Linked DNA regions of Homo sapiens. The protein of the gene in region 1 purifies or fractionates together with the protein of each later gene. This does not show direct contact. Each region holds a gene or a part of one and is shown on either strand. Other genes may lie near its edges.

Region 1 (7,620 bases):
TACCCTACAAATAGATTCTCACACTAGAGGAAAAATTTCAGATTTAATAGACATAATCTTCAATAGAGTTCTACTTCTATCTTGAAAGATTTATAGTTAAAGTCAACAAAATTATACACTGGGGAAATAACATCCTATTCAATAAATAGTGCTGGGAAAATTGCAGCCATATGCAGAAGAATAAAAGTGGACTCATAACTTTCACCATATACAAAAATTAACTCAAGATGGATTAAAGACCTAAATGTGAGACCTTAAACTACAAAAACTCTTGAAGAAAAACTAGGAAACTCTTCTGGACATTGGCCTGGGCAAAGAATTTATGATCAAGTCTTCATAAGAAAATGCAACAAAAAGAAAAATAGTTTAATAGACTTAATTAAACTATAAAGCTTCTGCACAGCAAATGAAACAATCAACAGAGTGAACAGACAACCTAAAGAATGTTAAGAAATATTTGCAAACTACGTATTTGACAAAGAGCTAACATCCTGAATCTATAAGGAACTGAAACAACTCAACAGGAAAAAACCTAATAACCTCATTAAAAAGTGGGCAAAGGACATGAACAGACATTTTTCAAAATAAGATATACAAGTGGCCAACAAACATAATAAAATGCTCAACATCACTAATCATCAGAGAAGTGGAAATTATAACCACAATGAGATATCATCTTATACATGTCATAATGACTATTATTAAAAGGTCAAAAAACAACAAATGTCGATAAGGACCTGGAGAAAGGGGAATGCTTATATACTATTGCTAGGAATGTAAATTAGTTCAACCTTTATGAAAAACAGTACGGCGATTTCTCAAAAAACTAAAAATAGAACTACCATGACCCAGCAATCCTATTCCTGGGTATATGGCTACTGGGCAAGAAATCATTATATCAAAAGATAGCTGAACTCATATGTTTATCACAGCACTATTCACAACAGCAAAGATACGGAATCAACCTAAGTATCCATAATGGTGGGCATAAAAATATACCACATTAATAAAATGTGTGTATAAACATATATATATACACACACACACACATATATATATATATATAATGTAATAGAACTCAGCCATAAAAATTAATGAACTCATGTCTTTTGTAGCAGCATGGATGGAACTGGAGGCCAATATCCTAAGTTAAATAATTCGGAAATAGAAAGTCAAATACTGCATGTTCTCAGTTGTAAGTGAAAGCTAAACAATGGGTCACATGGACATATAGAGTGAAATAAGACATCAGAGACTACAAAAACTGGGAGGGTGGGAAGGGAGTAAGGCTGAAAAATCACTTATTGGGTACAATGTTCACTATTGGGGTGATTAGTACACTATAAGTCCAGACTTCACCACTATGCAATATATGCATGTAAGAAACCTGAACTTTTTATAAAAAATAAATAACCTGAACTATTTATAAAAATACATGAAAATTTAAAGTGATTCATAGTCAAATGTTAACTGAAAAGGAAAATATTTTGAAACTTGACTGCCATAGGCCAATACGGAAAAGGTGAACACTTTCAACCTATGTATACATGTAGAAAATGGAACATTTGATATTCAAGAAAACGTGATTTTGGAAACACAATTTGTGGAAGCACAGCAATATCTCAAATGAACCATATAATTATCAGCAGTGATGGGATCAGGATTTTTCCCCCGTTTTATAGTTAGATTTCACATTTGTACATGAGAATCTAAAATTGATTTTTTCTATTTAAAAGCATTAACATTATAAAATGGTTCTCAATTTAAATGTTATTCAATTTTCAGAATAAAATGAAATACTGAAAAATTTATTGGTAAGCTATGACCATTTTAACTTTATATTCCCCAAACACCAAATTTCTTTAATTTTGTTGTTATTGAAACCATGACAAAGGCAAAATATTTAACACACCAAGATGTTCCTTCATGGAAGATCTTCATTTGAAAAGTCACTTACCAGCAGATATGCTTACAAAGTTCCCCTCCTTTCGGAAATGTGGAACAGTTACAAACGTGAGGATTTCCTAGAAAAACCTTTAAAGGAAAAATGCATACTTAAAAAGACCAGTAAAATTTGAGAGTTAGAGCAAAACTGAGTTAATAAAAGAGATTTGAAGAGGTAATTTAGTTTAGGTGATTCAAAAAGGTTGAATAGATTCTACTGGAGAATCTTAATTCTTGATACTAGTCTCTAGGCTTCATTATTTATCTTTGTTAGCAAATTAACAAATTAGGATGGTTTTAAAGTGACCTGCCCTTAGGCAGGTGAAAATAAATCTAATTCCCAAAGTCAGAGAAGAAAAAAAGCAAATATCAACCCATAAATTCCTCACAGTAAGGAAATTCTACTTTGGGGTGGAGCTAAGCACCTTTTGTAAGGTAGCTCATTTTGGATTTTTGTTTGGTGCATTTGAGTCGGTGAATTTATTTAATTTTATTCAAGAGGACAAAATTTATTCACCAAGACTAGTTTGGCTAAAACTATTAAATACAGTAAGTATTGAAGCAACAAAGTAAAAAAAGATGCTTTAAATAAGCACAGACTAGTAAATTGCATTCAATTCTTAAACTTCACGGCACTAACGTAAAATTTTGTAAGTCAACTCCTAGGAGGTAGTGCAGTGGCTAATTTTTGAGTGGTTAAGGATGGGATATGCAATTATGAAATATCTGTGGTCTTTCAGTAAACTTGAATTTTTATTCATTAATATCTTTCCAAGGTATTGCCATTTAAACCATCCTTTAATAGGGCCTTCATACAGTTTCAGAGTGAGCAAAGAGTAAAGGGAAACCTATTTATTTATTTAGAAAATATTTACAGTATGCTAGCAGATTGTAGAATTTTCATTTCGTTTGATTTACAGGACTAAGGACCACTAACAACAGATCCAAGAACACATGTAATGCCAACCAGGTATTCATACGCCTCTGACATTTTCAAGCCTAAAGATCAAGAGCCATCATCTTTTACAAGAGTTGCAGTTTGGTCTTAACCTCCAAAAAAGAAACTTCTAATAAATACTATTTCCTTCTGTAATTTCACGTATTTTAGAGTCTGGAACACTCGTGGGAAGGCGCTTTCGGGGGTGAGGCAGCAAGTATCCGCAGAGATTGTGATGGTGGCTACGCACATTGGGTATGCCAGTGGGGGAACCTGGTGGGCGGGGATGATGGCCAACTGGGGGCGGTAGGGGCGGTAGTTACTCGGAAATCCATGTATTCCGGCTCCTCCTCCCTCAGCAGGAAGCCAGTGGGGCCCATCTCTCGTAGGAGGTAGATGCTGCTACTCAGCGCCTGGTCTTGGTGCCAGCTGAGCCTCTCGCTCAAGTGTCTTCGCCTTTCAGAGGCCTTATAGCCTCGGCGAAGCATGCTGGGTGCGGGCGGAGGCGGCCCCTCTGCTCGGCTCACTGAGGCGCCAGCCGGTCTCCAAGACGACGGCGTGCAGGCTGGTTGCCTTGGTGACGGTGGTTGGGCTCGGGGTGTCCCGGTGTGCCCTGCGCCGAAGAAGAGCGGGCGACAAAGGTGCGGGATGGCATGGATTCTGCAACTCTCCCCAGCCTCCACTGCGTTTCGAAGCGACGCCCTTGACTGAGGAGTGTTTTTAATAATCATCTGGCCGACTTGGAAGCTGGAGGCCGAAGGCATAGCTGTCAATTTTCTTGCGTTCCTTCTGCTTCCTCGGGGCAGAGATGGTGAAATCTACTTGTTAGGACAGTTGCAAACCCGATTGCAGTCTGGGCTCTGGATGCTGAAATTATCCTGTGATGATTCATCATCTTTAACAGAAAGCCGAGGTTACAGAGCCCAGAGTGATTTTTGACGTTCCACAATATTCCACGAACATTTTCTGATTGCTCACTATATGCATAGATTGACTGAGTCTCTGGGGGAAAGATGTAGAAGACAGGAGTTCTAAACCCTAGGAAGTGCATCACCGGTAGTGGCGCCGGCTGTAGTCCCAGCTACTTGGGAGGAAACCAGATCCTTAAGTCATTTCTCTCTGCCTCTCTCTCTCTCTCTCTCTCTCTCTCTCTCTCTCTCTGTGTGTGTGTGTGTGTGTGTGTGTGTTGGAGGGGAAATGGTCTTCCAAGTGAGGGAACATTTTTTAATTGCATGTTTGGGTAGGGGTGGGTGTTGGGGATGGTACAGCCAGAATGGTGGATGGTGGTACGTCCTGAATGGTGGCACAGAATCCATTGACTATGGGTACATGAAACTTACAAATCTGTATACTAAGGAATAAGAGTTTCAAGGTATGCAATGTTTGTACCTCCAATAATTTAAATTGTCTCTGAGGTTTGTTTACCACATTTTAGGGGGAAAACTGTAATAAAGTATGGGTCAACATTTTGAGTCATAATTACTGAAAAAAGAAGCCACATTACTAGAATCTCTATAGGAAATTAAAAGCAGGAGATAGCACTACTTGGAGGTCCAGTAACCTTTGCCTTGGTGGCCAAAGATAGAGCATATTTGTCCTATTTTATCATGGGCAGAAATCATAACTAGATTATGTCAACAGCAGGAGAGTTCTCAGAAAATGGCAAGGGCAAAAGATGAAAGAAGATGATGGTAATGGCAGCTTTCACAGGTGAGACACCTGGATAAACATCATCCAACCCTTAAAGTCTTAGGTCTAAGGTCTAAGGTTTTAATTTACTAAATTTTATTTTTATTCTCCTATTCTGACTAATAACAACTCACATTCATACTACCATACTCCCAACTTTAGAATCAATTTAATGGTACTAGATGTTAAAGAAATACATTATAACATTAGAAAAAAACTCACATATCAAGAGCAAAAGAAATTATAAATTGGATTAAATTATTTTACATATTGATATGTATAATTTTAAAAACTCAATAAATTAATGACTCCATATTTGCTATATAATATGATGAGTTGGGCTTCAGAGTGAGGACATTTTATTCAACCATCAATTTTTTTTCTCTCTCTCTTTATATACATGTGTGTACATATAAAATAAAGTTATAAAATTTTTAAAAGCAAACAGCAAAAATTGTTAAAGCTGTTGTGTTTTAGTTATAGCTAGTGATACTTGTTTACTTGCTCCATGTATAAGTGATAAACATTTTCAAAGGGTCGCATGTTTAAGACACAATAGTCATTATATCAATGGAATATAGGTTCATAAATTCCATTTTGGGGGATGGTAAAAATAATGGTGTTTATGCTTTCATAGAAGTTAAAAAGTGAAAGCACAGATTGCTAGACAGAACTTCATTCTATTTGTAAGATATTTGTTTTGATATCTGTCAGTTATGACTTTAAAAACATTTTTATAGTCAGGTGACTATCCCATATGTTTGCTTCATCTCTTAAGAGTGTGTGATAGGGGTAATATTTTGAAAATATTAAATTGGAGAATTAAATATCCTCCTTCAGGTATATTTTGTGGCATATTTCCCCATGTGAGAGGGAGGTGATTACTGCAAAAAACAAAGCTGTGGGCTGGGTGCGGTGGCTCATGCCTGTAATCCCAGCATTTTGGGAGGTCAAGGCTGGGGGAATTGCTTGAGCTCAGGAGTTTGAGACCAGTCTGGGCCACATGGCAAAACCCTGTCTCTACAAAAAATACAAAAATTAGCTGGGCGTAGTGATGCGTGGCTGTAGTCCCAGCTACTTGGGAGGCTGAGGTGTGAGGATCACTTGAGCCTGAGAGGTGGAGGTTGCAGTGAGCAGAGATTGTGCTGCTGCACTCCAGCCTGTGTGACAGAGTAAGACCCTGTCTCAAAAAAAAAAAAAAAAAAAAAAAGATGCTTGAGTTTCATGGATCAATAAACCTGAGTTTCTTGGATTAATTTTTAGCCTCTTTAGCAATACAATTGTCATGAAAGACAGGTATTAAAAAGTTATGATGGCTCCCGTTAAGACAGAAAAAACTGAACCTAGAGTATTAGACCTTGGAATTATATGGAAAAGAATGCTCTAGGAAGTAGGAAGAAGAGTGATGGAAGTCACTAGAAGAAGTCAGCTTGCCAGTCTCCAAATGGGCATGTGTGAGTTGGGTTGAGGGCGGAATATATGGAGTGATGGATTGAAACATTGAGATGAGTTTAAGATGACTGAATACCTGGAGCAGGTGTGTGTGTATAGCATACTTCTGTAATGGTGTTAGAGAGTTGCAGGCTACTAGGAAACTTCAGCTTTTTGCCATGTCTAACACATGGCAAGCAATATTCAGAGGTGCCTGTGGAAGACAGGTAAATGATCTGGTTCTCAAGGATTAAAAACATGAAATGGATACAAGAGTTTGTGTTTATTTCTAGAGATCAGGCACAAAAGAAAGGCAGAATACTGGTATCTGACAAAGAAGATACAGAATTAATTGACTTCAAGACTGGAAGCAAATAGAACTAAGGATTCCAGAGGGAGGCACCAGCACAACCACCTTAAAAAAAGTCAAAACTCGCAACTCATTGTTCACTAACAAGGAACAATTCAGACTGCCCATATTGCAGAAGTGACCAGCAAGAGTCTAGGGGACACTGTGTAAATTTAAGGTCATCAGCTTTTGTTATCAGACACGTGTTTACAGAGCTTTTATTTCCTCATACACTCATGTATCTTTTTGAGATGAAATAGGGAATGAGTGGAAATCTAAAATTCTAGGCATTTTATCCTTAATAGTGATTATGATGGTCTTAACATTCCACTTAGCTTGACTAAACTTTAGACAGATTTTTTCCTGACTGTAGATTCTTGACCTCCCTTTTCTTAGAGTATTTACTTCGGAAAACTTGGAATTATAAATTCTTTCTCTACCCCTTTAAGATGTAAATATTCTTGCAGCCTCTTGTAGATGTGACAACTAGTCATGTCTTTCTCAAGGACCTGGGAGGCATTCTTTGAAATAGAATCAACAATAAAAATAGTGCTCTCGTATCCTAGTCTTTGCAGCAGCATAGAAGCCTAATTTAGATAAGTGCCAATTAGCAAATACAGGTGGCTTAGTCACATTGGCCAACCTTCACCCTAAAGTCCTCCAGTACTTTTCCACTAGTTTACCTCCAGGTGCAGGAAACCACCATGGCACGTGTGAATCTATGTAACAAAACTACACGTTCTGCACATGTACTCCAGAACGTAAAGTATAATAATAATAAAAAATATAAAAACTGCCACCTTTTGTTTCAGTAGTCATGTTTAATCTCACTCCCATATTGCAGTAGACTTTAATAAAGTCTTCCTTGCTTGTTTAACTCCATCCAATGCAGTTTTTCTTTGACAGTGAACACCATTTATCTAAAAGACTATTTGGTAATTAAGTCAGGCTAAATTATATTTTGCTGAGTTTTTTTCTTGTGAACAAAGAAAGTGAAGTCTATCAAAAGCAACTGGACCATTTATAGAGAAAATATTTTAAACTTTTTGCACATAAAAGTGTAATATGAATAAATATATAACCCACTATGAGTGTGACTGGGACTTTAAGATGCCAGAATAAGTAGATAATGTTAGTTTCTCCCCCATTGACTAGCCTAAAAAAAGTCAGGTTTCAACCTCTGACAATGAAGAGAACTAAAGAGGGCTGAGGTAGGCAGAATTTTCAGAATGACCCCAGTGACCCCAATGACCCTTACCCTTGTATAATT
Region 2 (7,664 bases), on another chromosome or scaffold:
TGGGGAGGGACAGAGGGACCAGGGAGACCCATAACAAGAGGAAAAGAGGCAGAGCCAGGAGCTGCAGAGAGAAAGGACCCAGAGAGAGAGAGACTGAGGAGCGCTGGGACACCCGGAGCTGAGAGCCTGCCCCGCGCCCACAGACCGACCGCTCGGGAGCTCGCCCCCGCCTAGCCTCGGCTGAGATGCAGGGCTCTGAGCTCCAGGTCACAATGCACGACACCCGGGGCCGCAGTCCCCCATACCAGCTGGACTCCCAGGGGCGCCTGGTGCTGGCTGAGGCCCAGGTGGGCGACGAGCGAGACTACGTGTGCGTGGTGAGGGCAGGGGCGGCAGGCACTGCTGAGGCCACTGCGCGGCTCAACGTGTTTGGTAAGTGTCCTCGGGCATCCCCCGAAGGGAGGCAGGCAGGGAGGGGCGCAGGGCAGGGGCTCCTGACGTGAACGTCTTTTTCACAGCAAAGCCAGAGGCCACTGAGGTCTCCCCCAACAAAGGGACACTGTCTGTGATGGAGGACTCTGCCCAGGAGGTACCTCTCGGGTGGACCTTGGCCCCAGGGTCCTGGAGGAGGAGGGGACAGGGCCCTGGACTCCTGGGTCTGAGGGAGGAGGGGCTGGGGACCCCTGGGTAATAAAGGAGGAGGGGTAAGGCCAGGCGAGGTGGCTCATGCCTGTAATCCCAGCATTTTGGGAGGCAGAGGCAGGCGGATCACCTGAGGTCAGGAGTTCCAGACCAGCCTGGCCAACATAATGAAACCCCGTCTCTACTAAAGATACAAAAATTAGCTGGGTGTGTTGGTGTGCAACTGTAATCCCAGCTGCTCGGGAGGCTGAGACAGGAGAATCACTCGAACCCAGAAGGCAGAGGCTACAGTGAGCTAAGATCACACCACTGCACTCCAGCCTGGGCCACAGAGCAATACTCCGTCTCAAAAAAAAAAAAAAAAAGAAGAAGAAAAGAAAAAAGAAAGGAAGGGCAGAGGGGGAAGACTCCTGTGTCCTAGGAAGGAGAGAGCTGGGGGACCCAGAATCCTTGGTCCCTGGAGGATGGTGCTGGAGGCCTGGACTCTTTAGTCTGAGTCGGGGACTAGGAATTTGGACTCCTGGGTCCTGGGAGAGTCGGGAGTTAGGAGCCCGGCTCATGAGTCTGAGTGGGGAGAACTCCTGAGAGAGGAGCCCCGACTTCAGAGTCCCAGCTCCAAGCCCAGGGCCATGCCCGTGTCTGCCTCAGATCGCCACCTGCAACAGCCGGAACGGGAACCCGGCCCCCAAGATCACGTGGTATCGCAACGGGCAGCGCCTGGAGGTGCCCGTAGAGATGAACCCAGGTGAGCAGCGCAGGAGCGCGGCGGGACGTGGGCTGGGGTGGGTGGCGGGGCTATGGCCTGGCTGACTGCCACCTCCCCCGATCTCTCCCAGAGGGCTACATGACCAGCCGCACGGTCCGGGAGGCCTCGGGCCTGCTCTCCCTCACCAGCACCCTCTACCTGCGGCTCCGCAAGGATGACCGAGACGCCAGCTTCCACTGCGCCGCCCACTACAGCCTGCCCGAGGGCCGCCACGGCCGCCTGGACAGCCCCACCTTCCACCTCACCCTGCACTGTGAGTCTGTGCTGGCCTTTGACCTCTGACCTCAGGCTCCACACCTCATGAGGCCTGACCCTCCACCCGGGGGCTTCACACTCCCCTCTGACCCTCTGCCTCCCTACTTCATGCTAAAAAAAAATGTGCTAGTGCTGGCCACTGACCTCTGACCTCAATTGGTCGCACAAGCCCCATCCTGACCTCTGACCTCCGACCTCCACTTAGCACCCTGGACCCCATGAAGTTTATGACTAAATGGTGCTTTCCACCTTCTCACACTGAATTGGGTCCCCCCATGACATCTGGCTCCAAGTCTCACACTGACCCATCGCCCATACGGACCTCTGACTCTTGACCTATACTCTTAGTTTATTTCAACCTCTGAACTCTGGCACTCAGAATAATTGTGAACCTGAGGCTTGAAACCTATGACCCGTAACCTTTGACCCGCCATAGCCCTCACCTGGGATGCAGGGCTGACCTCTCGCCTGTCCTCTAGCCTTGACCCTTCCCCTGATCACAATTCCCATCTCCCTGCCCTTCCCTTAGATCCCACGGAGCACGTGCAGTTCTGGGTGGGCAGCCCGTCCACCCCAGCAGGCTGGGTACGCGAGGGTGACACTGTCCAGCTGCTCTGCCGGGGGGACGGCAGCCCCAGCCCGGAGTATACGCTTTTCCGCCTTCAGGTGACCCACCCAAGGGTCCCTCTGGGATCCACCCCCCAGCCCCTGACCTCTGTGACCTGCTAACCTGCATAACTTCTAATGTGGGACCTGGGAGTCCCCATGGCTTAGGCAGCCACCTGATCTGGTGGCCCACGAACTAAAAGGACCTCTGACCCCTGATTTGAGAGAGTCAGGACTTAGCATGCCACCTGACTTGATGGCCCCTGACCCCTGATTCTGGCTTAGCATGACACTAACCTGGTGGCTTCTGACCTAGCATGAGCCCGCTGAACCGGGGTGGCTTCTGAGCCTGGTTCCTCGTCCCCCGTCTCCCAGGATGAGCAGGAGGAAGTGCTGAATGTGAATCTCGAGGGGAACTTGACCCTGGAGGGAGTGACCCGGGGCCAGAGCGGGACCTATGGCTGCAGAGTGGAGGATTACGACGCGGCAGATGACGTGCAGCTCTCCAAGACGCTGGAGCTGCGCGTGGCCTGTGAGAGCCCTGGGTGAACGGGCGGGCAGGAGGGGCCCTGGCATCAGTGCCTCTGCGCCCTCCTCCCTACAGCCCTGAAGTTGCTCTGTCATCCCAAACACTCTGCCTTCAACCCTTTCTCTGCATTTCTTGGGGGTTTTTTTGGTTGTTTTTTTTTTTTTTTTTTTCCCAGAGACAGGACCTGGCTACGTTGCCCAGGCTGGTCTCGAACTCCTCATGCGATCCTCCTGCCTTGCTCTCCCAAAGTGCTGGGATTACAGGAGTGAGCCACCGCATCTTGTCGAGAGCTCTTTCCATAGCACAGACCTGACCCTCCTCTGCTCAGAATCTGCCATGGCTCCCCAGTACCCTTGGGAGAAGCCCAGGTGTCTCACCATGGCCTTCAAGGTCCACCTGGCCAGTTCCACCATTAGCTAGCTGATCCTTCTCCCCAGTCAAGGCTATCTCCTCATCACCCCCCAGGCTCCTCTGGTTCCTACCTTCACTGCCCATCCTTCCTACCGTCTATTTCTCACCAATCCCTTGAATCCCAGGCTTCTAAGAATGATTTTCAGTTCATTCGCATCCAGGCCCTGGGGAAAGGCTGTATTCTCCCTTGGCACTTCTTACATATCCCTTCCTGGGGTAGACCCTGCGCCAGATGCTGGGGACACATCTGTGAACAAGACAGACCACCCCTGTTATTTCAGTAGGGGAGACAGATGGTAAATGCTAACTAAGCCCTTTCGTAACAGTAGTGTATCTACAGGTGATATCACCAGTGAGAGAGAGCAGGAGAGGGGATTATTTTAGGTGGCAGGTGTTGCAGTCTGCTTTCCTGAGAAGCAGATTCTGACTTGGATGTTTTCAGGCAAGAAGTTTATGGGAAGTACCCTGGGTTCCGCACCTCTTGGGTCTAGGGAGGTAAAGGAAGCAAGATTTGGCAAGGTGAGAAGTTGGACTGAAGTCTAAGGAAGGTCTCAGGCTGGGTGCAGTGGTTCATGCCTATAATCCCAGCACTTTGAGAGGCTGAGGCAGGAGGATTGTATGAGCCTAGGAGTTTGAGGCCAGCCTGGGCAACAGAGGGAGACCCCATTTGCACACACACACACACAAATTAAAAATTAGCCAGGCATAGTGGCACACACCTGTAGTCCCAGCTACTCGGAGGCCCAGGTGGGAGGATCCCTTGAGTCTGGAAGGTTGAAACTGCAGTGAGCCAAGATTGTGCCACTGCACTCCAGCCTGAGCGACAGAGAAAGACCCCGTCTCAGGAAAAATAAAAATAAAAAAGTAGGCCGGGCCCCGTGGCTCATGCCTGTAATCCCAACACTTTGGGAGGCCGAGGTGGGTGGATCACCTGAGGTCAGGAGTTAGAGACCAGCCTGGCCAACATAGTGAAACCCCCTCTGTACTAAAAGTTAGCCGGGTGTGGTGGCATGCACCTGTAATCCCAGCCACTCAGGAGCCTGAGGCAGGAGAATCGCTTGAACCCAGGAAGCGGAGATTGCAGTGAACTGAGATCGTGCCATTGCACTCCAGCCTGGGCAACAGAGTGAGACTCCATCTCAGAAACAAATAAAAGAAAGAAAGAGGGCCTCAGTCAGCCCCACGGGGTACTTGGAATCCAGGATGGCCCTTCACAGTTGTCCCCAGTTGGGGTGAGGGGGCTGGGCCTTAATAACCTCTACATCAACCAGTCCTCAGAGGTGTGCTGGCCTTAGGCAAGGGGCTCTCAGCAGCTGAGGCAGCTCCCAGAGAGGGGTGACAGCTGCAGGCTGACAGCTGTCATCCTTCTTAGCAGCTGGTGGAATAAGTCCTTCCGTGCTGTAGGAAAGATCTGGGTGTCCACAATAGGGGAGGTCAGGGAAGCCTCTGAGAAGAGACATTTAAGTGAGACTCAGAAAAGCAGACAGCAGCCAGGCACAGTGGCTCACACCTGTAATCCCAGCACTTTGGGAGGCCGAGGCAGGTGGATCACCTGAGGTCAGGAGTTCGAGACCAGCCTGGCCAACATGGTGAAACCCCATCTCTACTAAAAATATAAAAATTAGCCAGGCATGATGGCTGGTGCCTGTAATCCCAGCTACCCAGGAGACTGAGGCAGGAGAATCGCTTGATCCTGGGAGGCGGAGGTTGCAGTGAGCTGAGATCGTGCCACTGAACTCCAGCCTGGGTGACAGAGCAAGAGTCTGTCTCAAAGAAAAAAGAAATTGGCCGGGCACGGTGGCTCACACCTGTAATCCCAGCACTTTTGGGAGGCAGAGGCGGGCAGATCATGAGGTCAGGAGTTTGAGACCATCCTGGCTAACACGGTGAAATCCCGTCTCTACTAAAAATACAAAAAATTAGCTGGGCGTGGTGGCAGGTGCCTGTAGTCCCAGGTACTCGGGAGGCTGAGGCAGGAGAATGGCATGAACCCAGGAGGCAGAGCTTGCAGTGAGCTGAGATCCCGCCACTGCACTCTAGCCTGGGCGACAGAGCCAAACTCTCTCAAAAAAAAATAATAAGAAGAAGAAATGCAGAGAGCTACAAAAAGAGCACTGCAAGTAGAGTGAGCAAGTGCAAAGGCCCTGAGGCAGGCCCCAACTTGGTCTACTCAAGAAAAACAGCAAGAGAACGGGGTAGCTGGGAGCACAGGAGGAATGGGGAAGAGTGGGAGATGGTTCAAGAGGTGGGTGAGGGCCAGACCAGGCAGCATCTTTTAGGCACCCTCAAGAAGTTTGGCCTCGATGCCAAGGGTACTGGGGAGCCACTGCAGGGTTTTATGCAGAGGGGAGGGATGACCAGTGGGTGGTTGGTTTTTTTTGTTTTTTTTTTTTTGAGTCAGAGTCTCACTCTGTCACCCAGGCTGGAGCGCAGTGGCACAATCTCGGCTCACTGCAACCTCCACCTCCCAGGTTCAAGCGATTCTCCTGCCTCAGCCTCCCAAGTAGCTGGGACTATAGGCATGCACCACTATGCCCAGCTAGCTTTTGGATTTTTAGTAGAGATGGGGTTTCACCATGTGACCAGGGTGGTCTCGAACTCCTGACATCAGGTGATGCACCCGCCTCGGCCTCCCAAAGTGCTGGGGTTATAGGCATGAGCCACCGTGCCCGGCCTGACCAGTGGATGTTTTAAAGAGGTCCCTCTAGCTGCTCAGTGGAGGATGGACAAGAGGGAGGAGCAGGCTAGTGAAGAGGTGGTTGGGACAGTCAAACCTGGGGCCAGAGGTGGCAGGAAGCCAGAGGATTTGTCCTGGGAGCAGACCAGATAAAGACTTGCTGAGGCCAGGAGCAGGGGCTCACGCCTGTGATCCTAGCACTTTTGGGAGGTCAAGACAGGAGGATCACTTGAGGCCAGGAGTTTGAGACCCAGCCTGGCCAACATAGCAACACCTTGTCTCTATTCAAAAACAAAACTTTGCAGAAAAGATGTTTGGGGGTAACAGGGAGGTTACCCCACAGGTTGGGGTTTGAGCAAAAGGTTTGTGTGCTAAAGTCACAGAAGGGACACCTTCCACACCTAAGGTTATTCATTAACCTTGGGCTCAGATGTCAGCTCTGAAGAAAAGTAATTGACTTGGGCATGTCAATGTTGGGGTTAGACTGCTAGATTTTTGGTTGGAGAGCCTGGATGGGAGAATGGAGATTTCATGGAGATGGGGTAAACCAGGAGGATTACTTGCTGTTCTCTGCTTCCAACTGTCCATTCATGTTTGCACCCCCGACCGCCCCTGGAGAGCCCCTAATTGAGTGGGTGGCGGTCTGGGACGAGTGACAGACTGTCCCCCACTGCAGATCTGGACCCCCTGGAGCTCAGCGAGGGGAAGGTGCTTTCCTTACCTCTAAACAGCAGTGCAGTCGTGAACTGCTCCGTGCACGGCCTGCCCACCCCTGCCCTACGCTGGACCAAGGTGAGAGGGAGAGGAGCCCCCTCGGGCCCTGCACTCGCACCCTCCTCTCTCCCCTCACTCCTCGCCCTCTCACAGCGTCCTCCTCCTCCTCTGCCCTTCCCAGGACTCCACTCCCCTGGGCGATGGCCCCATGCTGTCGCTCAGTTCTATCACCTTCGATTCCAATGGCACCTACGTATGTGAGGCCTCCCTGCCCACAGTCCCGGTCCTCAGCCGCACCCAGAACTTCACGCTGCTGGTCCAAGGTTCAGGGGGCAGGGAGGGGGTGGGCTTGGATGGGGACAGTGTGGGGTGTGGGACCTGGACAAACAGGACGAGTTCCTGAGTCCCTGGCTGGGGACTCCATCTTCTGCTCGATGCCTCTCTTCTCTCTCTCTCTCCTCTCCCTTCACTTTCTTCCCATCCCCACCACCCACAGGCTCGCCAGAGCTAAAGACAGCGGAAATAGAGCCCAAGGCAGATGGCAGCTGGAGGGAAGGAGACGAAGTCACACTCATCTGCTCTGCCCGCGGCCATCCAGACCCCAAACTCAGCTGGAGCCAATTGGGGGGCAGCGTAAGGGACCTTCCTCTCCACCCTGAGCCCCCTCTCACTCATCCAAGTATCACACCCTCCTTTCCACTTCCTGGGAGACTGGACGTCGTTCACCTCTGCCCTTGACCCCACCCCTTGACCCCACCAGCCGGGGCCTGATCGGAGCCTCCATAGCCCGCAGAGCCAATCCCCGGACGGCAGGGTTGGGTGAGCAGCTCTCTGACCCTGAAAGTGACCAGCGCCCTGAGCCGCGATGGCATCTCCTGTGAAGCCTCCAACCCCCACGGGAACAAGCGCCATGTCTTCCACTTCGGCACCGGTGAGTGACTGAGGTGGTGGCAGAGGAGCCGGGTGTGGGGCAGACAGAGCCCACTGCCTGACCCACGCCTCTCTCCATCCTGTCCCTGCAGTGAGCCCCCAGACCTCCCAGGCTGGAGTGGCCGTCATGGCCGTGGCCGTCAGCGTGGGCCTCCTGCTCCTCGTCGTTGCTGTCTTCTACTGCGTGAGACGCA
Region 3 (7,997 bases), on another chromosome or scaffold:
CTTATTGACCAGAACTGGGTCAATAAGTGCTGACTGCCATTACTAGCCAAAGGGAATGGCATTGTGATGCTGGTCCTACATTAATTATGATTTTCTCCTGGGACTAGGAGCTGGGCCAAGTTTCTTAAATTTGTTGCCACCTCTCTCTTCTGCCCCTTCTCTCTCCACCGCAAAATAAGGACTTGTAACTGTGGAAAAAGTGGGATAGCATCCTACAGATGCATCATAATAGCATCTGTTAAAATTTTCAAAGCAATAATCCAGGAAGATAAAGTACATTTTTCTTTCCAGGAGACTTATTGCCTTACACAAGAATCTTATTCTCATTTGCTCCATACTTTAGCTTCCAAAGCCAACCAAATTTAAACAGTGGAAGCAAAAGATGAATTCAGCATTTATGTATTTTATATAATTCCATTTTAACAAAACTTAACAGTTTAAATAAGATTTAAGTAAAATTTCAGCGTTCCCAACTCCTAAATATCACTCACCCTCACATGGCAAAATATCTATTTTCACAAATCAGTGTAGACCTACTCAGTAATCGGTAATTGTGTGTTCTGTTTTCTCTGCTGCAGCTCAGTAGAAATTACACTTATCAATTGCTACTATTTAAGTTTTTCCCTCATAGCTACTTGTATTGGTAATCCTGTTAGATTTTGTTTTCATGTGAAGTACACGCTATAATGAATACTTTTAGATACTATGAGAAAAAATTAAGTGAAAAATTTAAGCAAAGTTAAAACAAAAATTATTGCTGCTTTTAAATAGACTTTAAATTGGGGTCAAAAGTGGCAGCCTGAAGGTATATTTTATTTTTCCAACAAAATGTTTATAAGTTTTTCAATTTTGAATGCCTTTAAGTGGTCTTGTATTCTCCAGTTTAACACAGGCCCCTCTAACCCTCTTATAGCTGACATCCAAGCACTCGTGGTAACTCCTTATCCCAGTAGGCACTTGAATTTGCCAATCTCTGCTTTGTCTGGATAAACCAAGATTAATAATAAATGAATAATGTTTTCCTATTTGCAGAACATTTTTGACTGGCTTCCAAAATGATCTCTAAAATGAATAATGAACTTTTCTCCAAGACAACTACATTTTTGGCGTGCTGGTTTAAAAGTTTTTGGCTGACATTTTGTCAGCCAAATAGGGTTTGGCTCCCCTATTTTGTCTTCTAAATAGGGGAGAAGGTGGTATCACGTCTTTGTTTGATTTATTTGACGAAGTTGTGTTCCCAGCCATATTGGGTAATTTTGCATTATGAAATTGTGCATACTTTAAACAAGTTGAGTATTCTTTAGTTGAAATTATTTGCTTGAGACCAGAAGTGTTTTGGATTTCAATTAAAAAAAAATTTGGAATATCTGCATTATACTTAACAACGGAACATTCCAAATCAGAAAAATCCCAAATCCAAAATGTCCTTTGAGCAGTTCCCCTGAGTAACATGTCAGTGCTCAAAATGTTTCAGATTTTGGAGCATTGGAAACATCAGATTTTCAAATTTGGGATGCTCTACCTGTATTTATATATTTTCAATTGTATATTTTAAAATATATTTCAAATTTAAAAGACTAAAATGCTTAAAGAAAATAATTAACAGCTTATATATGTTATTTATATAACATATTAATATAAAATTAATTTTATATAAACTTAATATATATTACATATATTGATATGAGTTTTTATATATAATATATATACTTTTATATATAGTATATCTTTCCAGATATTTTACTATATATATACTTTTATATATTTATATATATATATATATATATATCTTTCCAGAGTTCCTTTTACAAAATCTCAGAATGGTTTATAAGTATTTTACACATAATTTATAAAATATTATTTTCTATATAGTATAAAAAATTCACACGGTCTCACAGAATGATAGAGGGAAATTCACACTCACTATCTAGGGTATTAAATCTCCAAGACTACATTCTTCTCTTAATAAAATTGACCTTTGCTAATGTTAAAATTTTTTTATTTAATACTTTAGGAAATAGCTGTGCAATGTTTTAAATGAGTGAAAGAATGTGGGAACTTGGAAAGAAATGTTAAGAAGTCCCATGTTTTTATTCATGGGAACATTGCCTCATAAATCATTTTTGTACTATCATGTTTACTAATTGTGTGGATTTATTAGAGTTCTTTTTGGCCAAAATAATGGTGAGCTACCTGTGTTTATATTAACTACTTTCCTGTCAGCCTGTAGTAGTTTGCTATTATTTTACTGTGATTATTATTTTTTCTCTAATTCCCATCTTCTGTACTACCAGTTCTAGCCTAGTCTGCTTGTATTTCCTCCTCCTTTATTTGTCTAAAAAGATAAACAAGCTTTAATTTGCAAAGGACATGGAGAGTTATGGATACATGATGACCTCTTAAGAACTTCTCCAATGCCAACATTCCTGCAACAAGTCTTAAAATCAGTAGTGTCATATTATTACTATTTATTCTAATATGTGTCCTTAAAAGTTAAAATGATAGAACTAGTTGAAATAGCAAATAACATTTGAAATATTTTTCTGAGATATAATGCAAGAGATAATAAGTATAAAGAGTAACAACACCCCCTGAGTTAGTTGTTTACAACCCTGACTGAACATTGAAATTGCCTGGGGAAGATTTTAAAATTACTGACGCCTAGATCTATTGCCTAGAAATTCTGATATAATTGGTCTGGAGTGCAGCATGGACATGAGATGTTTTTAAAACTTCCCAGATAATTCTAAACTACAACTAATGTTGAGAACCACTGGTCTCAGACTATCTCCAGATTATGTTATTAACCTTGACTACCCATTATAATCAATGGATGTATTTTAGAAACATAGCTTCCCAGACTCCAGGTCCAGAAATTCAAATTCTATTTTTCTGGGATGGAACCAGGCATTGTGTTTCTTATGTGCCCTAATTTTAACGTGAAGTTAAGGTAAGAATTATTGCTCAAGAAACCAAGAGGTTTAACATCGCAATATGGGAAGGTATGATATATTATCATTGTGTTTTTTTTAATTGTTGTTTTATTGATGACAAACCATAACCTTGGCCTGCTAGAAGAGTTCAATGGCACAAATTTAGTTTTTTTTGTTTTAGACGGAGTCTCGCTCTGTCTCCCAGGCTGGAGTGCAGTGGCACAATCTGGGCTCACTGCAAGCTCCACCTCCCAGGTTCACGCCATTCTCCTGCCTCAGCCTCCCGAGTAGCTGGGACTACAGGTGCCCATCACCACGCCCAGCTAATTTTTTTGTATTTTTAGTAGACACGGGGTTTCACCGTGTTAGCCAGGATGGTCTCGAACTCCTGACCTTGTGATCCGCCTGCCTCGGCCTCCCAAAGTGCTGGGATTACAGGTGTGAGCCACAGCACCCGGCCCACAAATTTAGTTTTTTAAAGTAAGTAACTTTGTCTTAAAAATGATTTGTAGTAATAGTCATTAAAAGATAAACTGAGGCACATTAAAATATTAAAGCATTTATTTGACCATTCAGTGATTCATGAATCTGGTAGCTCCTGATAAAGGAGCCAAGGAGAAGGCTTTTATAGGGTGAATTTGGAAGCAAAGGAAAGATATTTGATTGGTTAAAGTGGAGTACTAGACTTATTTGGGTCATCCCAGTGGAAAGTCCCCAGTTAGAAGTTAGCTGGCAGTTTCTGATTGATTAAGCTTAAATTTCCTTTTTATCATTTACACTGATTTGGGTTTCCTTTCCTTAGGTAGGAACTCATGGAGCTGAAGCTACCTCAGCCTACTGGCCTTCTAATTATTTCAACACAGAAATAGTACTTTACGGCACACTGGAGTTGCAATTCTATTCTGCAATTGGGTGGTTTCAGATTTGTTCTTCCTATAAATTTTGGTCAAATTAGTCATTGCATTTCTTTCTATAAGTCTGAGATTCAGATATTTGGTTGCTCTGAGAAAGTCTCTGTTGAGATAGCATTGCCATACTGGTCAGATTGAAAGTGACTTTGTATCCTTTCTATTAATGTTCTGATATGAAAGAGTGATGACTCGGATATAGTGTTAATGCATTAAAAAAGCACAGCCTGACAAATCGCTTCCTATAATACACAGAAAAATGTCTAGTCTTGAATTTATAACACAGGGAAAGGTAAAAAATTTAATTATGCTTCCTAATGTTGAACATGCACGTGACAAAGTAAATACTAAAAATCCATTCAGCTGGGCGTGGACAGGGAGAGGGAACGGTGCACATCAGAGGGTGCAGGCTACTCCAACGTTTCCGTTTCCTCAGTCTCGCGGGAAGCTCCGTTGTGGGCGCCCCGGCTGGTGGCTGAGCTCAGGCCTTCAGGCAGAGGGGAGGCGAGGGCGGGGCGGTCACGTGAGAGCACTGCCGCGGTGGGTTGTGGGGGTGCTGCGGCGCCGTTTGCTTTGCCAAACCGACAAAAGAGAGATGATGGCCAACGACGCCAAGCCCGACGTGAAGACCGTGCAGGTGCTGCGGGACACAGCCAACCGCCTGCGGATCCATTCCATCAGGGCCACGTGTGCCTCTGGTTCTGGCCAGCTCACGTCGTGCTGCAGTGCAGCGGAGGTCGTGTCTGTCCTCTTCTTCCACACGATGAAGTATAAACAGACAGACCCAGAACACCCGGACAACGACCGGTTCATCCTCTCCAGGGGACATGCTGCTCCTATCCTCTATGCTGCTTGGGTGGAGGTGGGTGACATCAGTGAATCTGACTTGCTGAACCTGAGGAAACTTCACAGCGACTTGGAGAGACACCCTACCCCCCGATTGCCGTTTGTTGACGTGGCAACAGGGTCCCTAGGTCAGGGATTAGGTACTGCATGTGGAATGGCTTATACTGGCAAGTACCTTGACAAGGCCAGCTACCGGGTGTTCTGCCTTATGGGAGATGGCGAATCCTCAGAAGGCTCTGTGTGGGAGGCTTTTGCTTTTGCCTCCCACTACAACTTGGACAATCTCGTGGCGGTCTTCGACGTGAACCGCTTGGGACAAAGTGGCCCTGCACCCCTTGAGCATGGCGCAGACATCTACCAGAATTGCTGTGAAGCCTTTGGATGGAATACTTACTTAGTGGATGGCCATGATGTGGAGGCCTTGTGCCAAGCATTTTGGCAAGCAAGTCAAGTGAAGAACAAGCCTACTGCTATAGTTGCCAAGACCTTCAAAGGTCGGGGTATTCCAAATATTGAGGATGCAGAAAATTGGCATGGAAAGCCAGTGCCAAAAGAAAGAGCAGATGCAATTGTCAAATTAATTGAGAGTCAGATACAGACCAATGAGAATCTCATACCAAAATCGCCTGTGGAAGACTCACCTCAAATAAGCATCACAGATATAAAAATGACCTCCCCACCTGCTTACAAAGTTGGTGACAAGATAGCTACTCAGAAAACATATGGTTTGGCTCTGGCTAAACTGGGCCGTGCAAATGAAAGAGTTATTGTTCTGAGTGGTGACACGATGAACTCCACCTTTTCTGAGATATTCAGGAAAGAACACCCTGAGCGTTTCATAGAGTGTATTATTGCTGAACAAAACATGGTAAGTGTGGCACTAGGCTGTGCTACACGTGGTCGAACCATTGCTTTTGCTGGTGCTTTTGCTGCCTTTTTTACTAGAGCATTCGATCAGCTCCGAATGGGAGCCATTTCTCAAGCCAATATCAACCTTATTGGTTCCCACTGTGGGGTATCCACTGGAGAAGATGGAGTCTCCCAGATGGCCCTGGAGGATCTAGCCATGTTCCGAAGCATTCCCAATTGTACTGTTTTCTATCCAAGTGATGCCATCTCGACAGAGCATGCTATTTATCTAGCCGCCAATACCAAGGGAATGTGCTTCATTCGAACCAGCCAACCAGAAACTGCAGTTATTTATACCCCACAAGAAAATTTTGAGATTGGCCAGGCCAAGGTGGTCCGCCACGGTGTCAATGATAAAGTCACAGTAATTGGAGCTGGAGTTACTCTCCATGAAGCCTTAGAAGCTGCTGACCATCTTTCTCAACAAGGTATTTCTGTCCGTGTCATCGACCCATTTACCATTAAACCCCTGGATGCCGCCACCATCATCTCCAGTGCAAAAGCCACAGGCGGCCGAGTTATCACAGTGGAGGATCACTACAGGGAAGGTGGCATTGGAGAAGCTGTTTGTGCAGCTGTCTCCAGGGAGCCTGATATCCTTGTTCATCAACTGGCAGTGTCAGGAGTGCCTCAACGTGGGAAAACTAGTGAATTGCTGGATATGTTTGGAATCAGTACCAGACACATTATAGCAGCCGTAACACTTACTTTAATGAAGTAAACTAGGCTTATTTCTAAAAAGTCAAGTCTATTGGCTTTGGCCCAAAAGCACTGGTATCTTTGTATTAAATTCATGTTTATTGTCACAAAACCATTATTTATACCTATACAGTTGTACTGTTTCTTTTAAAGCAAAGCCATTTAACATCTTTCTTCATTCCTAATTTGGAAATTAAAGTTTACCTTTCTGTTAATCTATGTATAAATGTTACTCTGAGTTATTAATGTGGATTTTAAAATTGTAAGCAATAGAATAGGAAATAAAACAACTACCTAATACAAATATTTCTGATAAGACTACAAATATCTGACTGAGCTGGGGATTAAAGTAGAGGTAACTGTATCTTAAATGAGTATGATTTCCTTGTAAGTTAAAAAAATTGAAATTTAATTGTAGACTTCAATAGTCCAAGTTTTGAAGGATGTTTGAGCTTTTGTATAATGCCATTTATACCTGCAGTTTTACAGATAATGTTTGACTGCAGTTGCCTTGGAAATTCCTCCAAAGTTTGCCTTCATCTCTCCTCTACAGTTTGGAGGTGATGGTGCAGCAGTGGAACATCTCTTGATGCACCACACTACTTGTGTTCTGTGAAGTGATGAAAGTATAACTGGTTCTAGTTTGCACACTACACACATAGTTTTGTGAAGCTTCAGAAATGTTTTTTCTTTTCCTTGTGGCCAAACCAGTTTGTTAATCTGATTATATTCATCTGCTAATGATACTAAAGTTAATGTAATAAAGCATTTAAAAATCAGATACTTCAGTCTGTGCTGTGTATGTGGGATTTGATTTCTTCCTGATGAAATCCTAAATAAGGAGAACTTGTGTCTAAATAAGAAACAGAGAGAGTCATGACCCCCAGAAGCAAACCTGGAAAAAGGTTGAAGCTGGAGATAAGTTACTAGAGAAGATTGTATGGACTAAAAAGCCATCCCTTAAGCAGACTCCTGACTTTTGGCTGTCAGTGTGTAAATATATGCTTGGAGTACAAGAAAGTACCAGTCAGGCAAATCATAGATGGACCCAAGGTTCCAAACTAAATTAAATTACTCTGTGTCTATGTCAGGTAATTATTTCCTTACTTTTATTACCCTCATTAAGTTCTTTGGAGGCATAACCAATTTGTCTCAGCAATCATTGTCTTAGGAGGTATAATAGAGCCAAAAAATATTAATACTAACCTGGGAATTAGAGAAACCAGGCTCTCCTCATCTGCTACTACCCGTTTTCTCTAAGCTAATTTCCTCTTTTGTAAAATGATTACGAAAATTGCTCTGTTTTTTCATAAGATTTAAAAATTACTTTGTAGAAATAAAAAGTTGACATAAAATCATTGCAGAAGTTTAGAAAATGCAAATAAGTAAAATATGTTTACCCCCCGTTTCACACACACAAAAATCATTTAATTGTATTCACAGCATGTTTTCTGTACATGCTGTGAAAGTGGGCATGTAAAATGGTCTGTTTCCAACCAAACATGCATAAGCACACCTTTAATAATGACAGTAGATCAGATTCTTTATGTCTAATGGAATCTCAGACACCACCAGAAATTATATTTTTTGTAGCTGGAGGGGAAGCCCTTAGGAATCTCTCTTGTAAAGACTCTGTTCCACAAGTTATCAACCAGAGGCTATGAGCTCCAGAGAGAAGAAATAGCAGGTGAGTCTTATGTCC

What was found. The genes of interacting proteins can lie anywhere in the genome.
Region 2: the proteins of ZSWIM2 (region 1) and BCAM purify together in Homo sapiens (affinity purification with mass spectrometry; 2 studies listed by BioGRID and IntAct, with this or other methods). This does not show direct contact.
Region 3: the proteins of ZSWIM2 (region 1) and TKTL2 purify together in Homo sapiens (affinity purification with mass spectrometry; 2 studies listed by BioGRID and IntAct, with this or other methods). This does not show direct contact.

Annotation. Positions count from the first base shown.
Region 1 is NC_000002.12:186,845,762-186,853,381, forward strand, and holds the start of ZSWIM2 (E3 ubiquitin-protein ligase ZSWIM2), read right to left. Parts: upstream 3,410-7,620; 5' UTR 3,370-3,409; coding exon 3,205-3,369; intron 2,035-3,204; coding exon 1,958-2,034; intron 1-1,957. UniProt on the Homo sapiens protein: E3 ubiquitin-protein ligase involved in the regulation of Fas-, DR3- and DR4-mediated apoptosis. Functions in conjunction with the UBE2D1, UBE2D3 and UBE2E1 E2 ubiquitin-conjugating enzymes.
Region 2 is NC_000019.10:44,812,020-44,819,683, forward strand, and holds part of BCAM (basal cell adhesion molecule isoform 1 precursor), read left to right. Parts: intron 1-143; coding exon 144-372; intron 373-458; coding exon 459-529; intron 530-1,230; coding exon 1,231-1,327; intron 1,328-1,418; coding exon 1,419-1,601; intron 1,602-2,132; coding exon 2,133-2,269; intron 2,270-2,584; coding exon 2,585-2,741; intron 2,742-6,502; coding exon 6,503-6,618; intron 6,619-6,721; coding exon 6,722-6,863; intron 6,864-7,036; coding exon 7,037-7,173; intron 7,174-7,326; coding exon 7,327-7,471; intron 7,472-7,562; coding exon 7,563-7,664. UniProt on the Homo sapiens protein: Transmembrane glycoprotein that functions as both a receptor and an adhesion molecule playing a crucial role in cell adhesion, motility, migration and invasion.
Region 3 is NC_000004.12:163,470,174-163,478,170, reverse strand, and holds TKTL2 (transketolase-like protein 2), read left to right. Parts: upstream 1-4,416; 5' UTR 4,417-4,436; coding exon 4,437-6,317; 3' UTR 6,318-7,076; downstream 7,077-7,997. UniProt on the Homo sapiens protein: Plays an essential role in total transketolase activity and cell proliferation in cancer cells; after transfection with anti-TKTL1 siRNA, total transketolase activity dramatically decreases and proliferation was significantly inhibited in cancer cells.